Linked DNA regions of Homo sapiens: region 2 is linked to region 1. The links come from fine-mapping of genetic effects on gene expression. A gene starts in region 1. The other region holds a variant in brackets. All regions are shown on one strand. Distances are between the middles of the regions. Region 1 holds the start of RWDD3 (RWD domain containing 3). Region 2 has its middle 28 kb from the start of RWDD3.

What was found. PIP is the estimated chance that this variant, and not a neighbour inherited with it, causes the effect.
Region 2: its variant is the best candidate, but not a certain one, in a credible set for the expression of RWDD3 in lung (GTEx, PIP 0.70).

Annotation. Positions count from the first base shown.
Region 1 is chr1:95,231,757-95,236,153 of GRCh38, forward strand. RWDD3 (RWD domain containing 3) reads left to right here and starts at 2,454. Exons shown (of 4, transcript NM_015485.5): 1 at 2,454-2,559. The coding sequence starts at 2,475. All of the region lies in intron 7 of TLCD4-RWDD3 (TLCD4-RWDD3 readthrough), which reads left to right. It overlaps RWDD3-DT (RWDD3 divergent transcript), which reads right to left and starts at 2,226. Exons shown (of 4, transcript NR_125949.1): 1 at 1,944-2,226. RefSeq lists silencers at 2,195-2,524, 2,735-2,914.
Region 2 is chr1:95,259,584-95,263,980 of GRCh38, forward strand. No RefSeq gene overlaps it. Among named protein-coding and RNA genes, the nearest start is that of RWDD3, 28 kb to the left of the region's middle. The variant A/G (reference allele first, on the strand shown) is at 1,795.

The sequences.
Region 1 (4,397 bases):
AGAGTGCAGAAACTTATTCATGGGACTTCAGTGCCTTAGGATAGTGTCAATTTAAAAGACATTCACATTGACTTCTTTTTTATTTAAACATGCTAAATGAGGTATGAAAAGCAGATTAAGAAATCAACTGAGAAAGGAAGAGCAAAGAAGAAACCTATTGACAAGAAAATTTTAAATCATAGATTGATGTACTCTTTAATCAATTTTCATGGACCTATTGCTGACAGCAGGCTTTAGCAACTGCCTCCTAATCCTTCCTACAGCTGTAATTTTGCTCTTCATGTTATTTCACTCATCTCACTTATAGTGAATTTGGAAAATTAAAAATAAGTAAAAACTATTTGAATATTTTATAGATTTTTTTTTGCTCTTGAGACGGAGTCTCGCTTGGTTGCCTAGGCTGGAGTGGTGCAAAGGTGCGATCTCGGCTCACTGCAACCTCCGCCTCCCGGGTTCAAGCGATTCTCCTGCCTCAGCCTCCTGAGTAGCTGGGATGATAGGTGCTTGCCACCACGCCCAGCTAAATTTTGTATTTTTAGTAGAGACAGCATTTCACCATGTTGGTCAGGCTGGTCCCGAACTCCTGACCTCAGGTGATCCACCCGCCTCGGCCTCCCAAAGTGCTGGGCTTACAGGCATGAGCCACTGCGCCCAGCCTATTTTATAGATTATTTTCAATAAATAAGTCAAAAACCAAATTGTTTGACTTTTCATAGTAACACTGGATTTCGAATTAAAATAACTTAGTAATATTTTAAATTAAAAACGTATTCTTTTGTTCAATCTCTTTAGCAGTTAATTATGAACCTACTGAACTGCTGGAACGTCTGTTATTTTGGAAATAAAGGAGTTTTTTTTTTCTTCAAGCCAATTGGCCATATCAGAGATAACTGCATTTAAATAAGCCTTCATCTTCCCAATTATGTGCTCCTAATTACTCGGGGTCACTGAAATCCCATGGCATCTTCTGAAAAGCATTTTCCCTGCAGTCCATCTTGTTAGGTTTCCTTTCTGTTCCGGGAAGCCAGTATCTTTTCCTTTATCAGATTCCTTTTTTACCAACAGCGGGAATGGTAATGGTGAATGGATGCAGGGTTTTAAAATCAGCCAACTTTGTTCTGACTTCCGTAGGTCAGTGACTGGAGTCACTGCCTAACAACCTAAATTCCCAGATTTATCTCATGAAATGTGATTTCTCATACAAACAAAAGTTGTGAGAACTCCATGAGCAAGACCAGCTGCTTGTGGGGACTGCCAAATTTTAAACTGTTATTTGAACAGCAAAAAGACCAGGCAAACATCCGAGAGACAGACCTAACTGCAGATAAGTCTTGTAATCTTGTTCACTATAGTCAAAACAGAATGGATTGCTTATTCTGTTACCCTATTGGTATTGCTCACATTTTAAAATTTAGGTGCTGGGCTCAAGAATGATAATTTTATTATTAAGCTTCAAGAGTCACATTGTATTGTATGCATTGAATATCACGAAATCGAAAACACTGAAAAGCTAGCGTTTACATTCTTGGATCATACCCCCAAAGGCCAAGGATTCCCACTGGCCGCTTGCAGCAGGGCTGTCTCCTGTGAAGGCAAGAGACAAACGAGGAGCGTTATGACACTTTGCTCCCAGGACTTTGGCGCACAGTTCCCATGAGTCCAGGTCCGTCCAGTCAACATCCTGAAGCCAGGACTGGCAGGTCCTGACCCTCCCTTTTTGCACCCGTAAGGGGAAGGGCCCGGGAATCTGGACCTTGTCTAGAGTCCCGGCGCCAGTACCAGTTCGGAGGGCATCCTGGAGGTTGTTACTAACCCGAGCCTCTTCCAGGCTTCCCAGGCACCAGGGTTGCTAACAGCTCCACGGGGGCGAATAATTTTGTTTATTTTGTTAACTGTGGTTATCTCCAACACTCAGTTCAGACCTGAGCCGGGCAAAGTCTCACCTTGTCTCCTGGTCACTTCCCTGCTTGTTTGTTTCTTCCTAACTCCCAAGTGTCTTTCGCCCAGTTCATCCCCACCTCAGCAGCCCAAGGCTCGGCGGGGACGGTCGGGGTTCGAAGCCTGCAGCTAAACTTAGAGGGTTCAGGCTTTGCTGGGAGGCCTCCCTGTGCTCAGAAGAGCCGGGGGTAAGCTGGGCGGTCGCCTTGGGTGCAGACAGAGGCGCAGGGCCTCGGCCTCCAAGAAAATTCCCAAACCGAGAGGCTGAGCTTCGCGTCTGTAGTTACTGAGCAGGAGCTTCTGGGCGGAACTTCTAAGGGCCCCGCCCGCCCCGTCTGCCCTGACCCTCGCCCGGACTCGCCTCGCCCACGTCCCGTTTCGCTTCGCCCCAGCTCCGTCTCGCCCCGCCCCCGTCCCGCCCGGTTGCGGAGGCGCGGGGCGCCCCCGGGTGGCCGCGGGCAGTGCTGCTCCTGGCCGGTGGAGGCGGCGGCTGCGGCAGCGGAAGGGGAAGCGCTGAGGCGGTGGGGCCCACAGCCATGGCGGAGCCTGTGCAGGAGGAGCTCTCGGTCCTGGCCGCGATTTTCTGCAGGCCCCACGAGTGGGAGGTGCTGAGCCGCTCAGGTGACTACCCGCGCGCGGGAGGGACAGGGCGCCCTCAGGGGCCACCCGCGTTCGCTTTGCGTCTCCTCCCCACCACGGAGCCTGGGCACCCCGCCTGGGCCCACGTATGGGGACCGGGTTAGTTGAATGATGGAATGACACGCCCGGAGGCCGGAGTGGTGTCGCAGCGGGCGGGAGTGTGAGGCGACCCCAGAAACACTAAGAGAGCGGCGCGGCCCACTGGGGCCTCTGCCGCCGGTCCCGCTCCCGGAGCCGGGGGCCCCTGCGTGCGCACCCCCAGGCCCTCCCCCAGCCTCCCACCCCTCAGATCTCACCCTATAAAGAAGCCTGTGCTGACGCCCCCTCGTTGTTCTGTGTCCTTCCTAAGCACTATGCCCTAGGCCCCCCCGAGAGCACTCCCCGGTTCTAACTCTACACGGGTATTTGTAGGTCTTAAGTTGCAGGAGGGCAGGGTCTGTTTGGTAATGACTCCAGGCACCTGGTAGGTAGTAGGTAAATGTTTGTTGACTGAACTTTTTCATTTATCCAGTGCTCAACCTCAACTTTATCTGCATTCTATTTCCAAGTTGATTGCTTTTCTGATACTTTTTTTTTTTTAGGTGGAGTCTCTCTTGTTGCCCTGGCTGGAGTGCAGTGGATCCATCTGGACTCACTGCAGCCTCCGCCTCCCGAGTAGCTGGGATCACAGGCGCGTGCCACCATGCCTGGCTGAATTTTATTTATTTTATTTTATTTATTTTTTATTTTTTAAGACGGAGTCTTGCTTTGTCGCCTAGGCTGGAGTGCAGTGGCGCGATCTCGGGTCACTGCAACCTCCGCCTCCCGGGTTCACGCCATTCTCCTGCCTCAGCCTCCCGAGTAGCTGGGACTACAGGCGCCCACCACCACGCCCGGCTAATTTTTTGTATTTTTTTTTTTAGTAGAGACAGGGTTTCACCGTGTTAGCCAGGATGGTCTCGATCTCCGGACCTCGTGGTCCGCCCGCCTCGGCCTCCGAAAGTGCTGGGATTACAGGCGTGAGCCACTGCGCCCGGCCTTTTTTTTTTTTTTTTTTTTTTTTTGAGACAGAGTCTTGTTCTGTCCCCCAGGCTGGAGTGCAGTGGCGCGATCTCGGCTCACTGCAAGCTCCACCTCCTGGGTTCACACCATTCTCCTGCCTCAGCCTCCCGAGTAGCTGGCACTACAGGCGCCTGCCACCATGACTGGCTAATTTTTTGTATTTTTAGTAGAGACGGGGTTTCACCATGTTGGCCAGGCTGGTCTCAATCTCCTGACCTCGTGATCCGCGCGTCTCGGCCTCCCAAGGTGCTGGGATTACAGGCGTGAGCCACAGGTGCCTGGCCTTCTGATACTTTTTTTTAAACAAGCTCTTGAGGGCTTTATTAGTCATTTAGCCCACATTTATTGAATCCCTGCTGCCTACAGACTTTGTCAGGGTTTCAGAGACACCGCTACCCATGGCCTCTAGGAGCTTACAGTGTAGAGAGGTTCTTTTGACTATTTTTTGATGATAGGTGAAACTTACTGTCCCTGTATGTGGCTTCTATTGAATAAAAAAAAAAGAAAAAACACTGCCATGTATGAGAAAGTGACTCAGTTTTCACTTAGCTTTCAGATACATTATGTACATGTTTGGGGCATGAGATTTATCGTTCTAATGTTATATTGTAGCTACCATTAAAATTGGCTTTCTGACCATAAATTGGTTAACCTTTAAGAAGGTAGTCTAGGCCTGGCGCGTGGCTCATGCCTGTAATCCCAGCACTTTGGGAGGCCGAGGCGGGCAGATCACCTGAGGTCAGGAGTTCAAGACCAGCCTGGCCAACATGGCGAAACCC
Region 2 (4,397 bases), 28 kb after region 1:
GTACTTTATGTTATCATTTTAAATGTACTTTGTTCTTCCCATTACTAGATTGGAAGTTTTCGAGGGTAGGACCTTACTTATTGGAGGCACAGCAAATATTGAGTTATGTGAAATGAATACAAATTGTGTTACTAGAGAAAGTTAAATTCCTCTTCTGGATTCTGGAAAGACATTGGTTTGTCTATGTATGAATGTACATTGAAACTTCAAACAAAACAAAACAAAACCTATGATGACAAATATAAGTCTTCAAAATCTCCATCAATAACATTCTAACTGCCAGAGATCACCCAATATGACCTTCCATATACTTTCTCTGTTTCAAATATTCTTTGTATTATTATTTCCTTCTCCTTCCTAATCTGGAGACAGAATGGTTGTCTTTTTTAAGGCAAGACCACTTGCCTATACATACTTGATTCCATCCTCTGTCTTCTCTGAGATTTCATAACATTAATTCTCTCTTGCATTTTTAATCTTCAATAATAAAAATGCTCAAATATTTCCTCTTATAAATAGCATCCTCTCTTTGATTCCCACTTTGTTTTGTTCATTGAACTGATATCTATTATGTTATTATGTCATCGCCTCCCATGCCTCTTTAAAAAATTGTGTTGTGAAATATAACACTCATACACAAATGAATAAGATATAATTGTACAGCTAAAGAAATTATTATGAAGTAAAATCTGTATAAATACCACCTGTTCAAGAAATAGAACTTTGCTAGCATCTTTACACTTCCCAGTCTCAACCCCCTGAATTGACCACTATTTGGATGTTTATGGCAATCATTTCCTGGTTCTTTTTTTAATTTTACTACCTAAGTAAGCTAACAGTATAATTTAGTTTTTTAAATTTGTTTTTAAATTCTTTATGATAAAGTCTGATCTCTTCTGCTCAGTCTTGTATTTGTGAGATTCATCTATTTTATTGTTTATAGCTATGAGGCATTCATTTTCATTGTTGTATGAAATATTCATATAGCCCAATTTATTTATCGAGTCTACTATAGATTGTTATTTGTCTAAATATTTAAATTTTTTGCTATCACAAATGGTAGTGCAATAAATGTTGTTGTAGATATCTCCTGGTACATGTAAATATGCATTATTGTTGAGTATATAACTAGCAGTGTGATTACAAGGTTTTAGTGTTTGCATATTTTCAACTTTACTGGATGATGCTAAACTGTGTTCCTAAGTGGTTGGGGCAATTTACACTCCTGGCAATACTTGGTACTGACAGTCTTTTTAATTTTAGTCATTACAGTGTGTGTCTAGTGGTGCTGGATATTAATAATATTGAGCACATTCTAATATATGTTAGCCATTTGGACATCCTCTTTTGTGAATTGTATCTTCAAATCCTTCATTCATTATTCTACTGGGCAGTCTGTTGTTTTCTTATTGGGTGTAGAATTCATTATGAATTCTGGATATGAGCCCTTTGTTGGATATATGTATTGCAAGTAGCTTCTCTCACTCTGTGGTTTGCTTTTTGTTGTGTCTTTTGATGAACGGAAGTTCTTTTTTTTTAGTAATATGACTGTAAAAATAAAATTCATTTTTAGGTTACAATTTGATGACTTTTGACTCAAGTACACATCCGTAATCATCAACCACTACTCCAATTGTTGGGTCCCCCAATATCGTCTCTGCTTTCTTCCTGTGTCCTGACCAAGGAAAACAGAATGCCTTGACTACTCTGTGACCTGGCCAGCTACATGTTTTTCCTGCATCCTTGAATCCAAGCTAGGGCGTTGAACATTCCCCACTACTGATAAAGCTGTTT[A/G]GGTTGTTGCTGGAAACACAGAGATTGATTATGTTACTATACACGTAGAAGGCGTCCACCTTCGGAAAAATTCTTTAAGCTCTCACATAAACTCCATAACCTGACCCCTCATTGCGGACATACTCAGGAAGAACATCTCCCCCTCACTGTCGCTCAGGCGGACCTGCTGCAGCCTCCTCCTGTGTAACTTGTAAGTTCCCCTAATAAATGCTTCAGATTGGTCACTCTGGAGTTTAGTGCTTCCTTCTCTGAAACCCAAGCAGGCCCAATCTCAGGAAGGTTTGGGACGGTCCCTTGAAGGAGTTCCCCTGCCACCATTCTTGGGGTGACTCCAGCTGCTGAGTTTGGCCGGAGAGAAAACCAATCTACACGTACAACCTTTCCACCTTTCCGCCTCCCCAGAACCTTTCCACCTCTCCAGAAAGTTCCCTCAGCCCCATTGCAGTCTCCTCCCCTCCTCTTCTTAGGTAATCACTGTTTTGATTTCTATCACTGTAGATTAGCTTTGCCTGTTCTAGAATAAAGGTGTTATTGAATAATGTGTACTCTTCTGTGTCCAGCTTCTTTCACTGTCTGTGATTTCATCTACATTATGTTGTGTATTGTGGTTTGTTCCCTTCTATTGGTGGCCAGTAGTCCACCATATAAATTTATTTAGCCATTCACCTTTGATGGATATTATGAATAAAACTGCATAAATATTTAGGTGTAAGCCTTTTTATAGATACAGATTTTCACATCTTTTGGTAAATATCTAGGAGTGGAATTTCTATGTCTGTTTAACTTTATATAAGAAATAGCCAAATTGTTTCCAAAGTGGTTGCACCATTTTACGCTTCCATTTGCAATGTACTAGGTTGGTGCAAAAGTAATTGTGGTTTTAGTCATTACTTCCAATGCAAAAACTGCAATTCCTTTTTTTTTTTTTTTGAGACTGAATTTTGCTCTTGTCACCCAGGCTGGAGTGCAATGGCGCGGTCTCAGCTTACTGCAACCTCTGCCTCTCGGGTTCAAACGATTCTCCTGTCTCAGCTTCCCAAGTGGCTGGGATTACAGGCGCCCACCATCAGGCGTGGCTAATTTTTGCATTTTTAGTAGAGACAGGGTTTCGCCATGTTGGCCAGGCTGGTCTCGAGCTCCTGACCTCAGGTGATCTGCCTGCCACGGCCTCCCAAAGTGCTGAGATTACAGACATAAGCCACTGCGCCCAGCCAAAAACCACGATTACTTTTGCATCAACCTACCTATGTTCCAGGCGCTGCATTCCTTCACCAAAAATTGGTATTGCTATTCTTTTTCATTTTAATCACTCTAGTGGGTGGGATATTACACCAAGGTTTATGTTTAGTTATCTGTAGGTTTTCTTAAATGGTCTGAAACAAGTAATTACCTCAGAATAAAATATTTTAGGAACCAATGCTGGCAGGATTACATCTTATAAAGAGGATATTGTTCACCAGTTTTGGTTCTGAGCAATCTTGAGCTAGTCCAGTGCTGGTGTGAAGTGTGCTAGTGCTTTTTTTTTTTTTTAAATCAGGATGCATCTTGATGGTTGGTGTCATAATTTCTGTTTCAGTGGTCTTCTGAATGTCCAGAGCCACTGTAAGGGGAATTGCCTATGCAGGCCATGCCAAGTCTCAGAGCATAGCAGAACATATTATAATACTTCTGGTGCAGTAACAGGCCACTGTGCTTTTGGGGGTCCCTTTCCGGAAAGTAGCGGTCAGAATGATTGACAAAGGCCTTCTGCACAGTAAGATAAGGTGCTCACTTGAATGGAACCTGGGTAGTGGCAGGGCACTGACTTTCTTCATAGATCATTCCCTGAGACTCACTCTAGGTGGTCTATGAATACCACCTCGCCTTTGTCCGCCTGGTCCTTTCAGATTGGTTCCCCTTATCTTCAGGCTCTACTGTCTCACCCTCTCAAAACAATTCCTCTAAAGGCTCTTAACCCACAACCCAGAGAAAATTATGTTCTCTGGTGGGAGAAAAGCTAGTGGTGGTAGAGATCAATAGGTGTTTACATAGTTTCCATTTTAACCTTCCTTTATAGTAATGAGCCCCAATTTCTACCTAGGCACAGTGCCATTTAGAATAAAATCCATATTTTTTAGATTTCCTTTAAACTAGGCAGGGCCATAAGACCAAATTCTGGGTCTTGAACATGACTTCCAGGAAGGCTTCTTGAAGGTGCTGGCTCACTGGGCGCTGTCTCTTTTGCTCTGCCCCTTCCCCCGCCCCCGGCATGTGGACACAGTCCCAGACATTCCAAAGGCATCTGGGATGATGAGGTGAGCTTGAGGGTGAAAGTGGAGCGGACAATAGGAATTACCCTCTGAATGTTTTTTTATGTGAAAGAATATAACTTTGCGGCTTTAAGCCACATTTTAAGTTTTCTATCACATGTCATCAAATCTAGTCCTGATGTACATATATGAAATTTGGAACCTATTACAAGTAACAGAGTATAAAATGTGACTGACTCTGAGTCATTCCAAATCTATTATTTATGGCTTAAACTTTTTGTCTAGAGTTCTTAGAAACCTAGATTTTCTTAAAGTAAGCTTTTGAAACATAATATCCAAGAATTTAATTTTTCT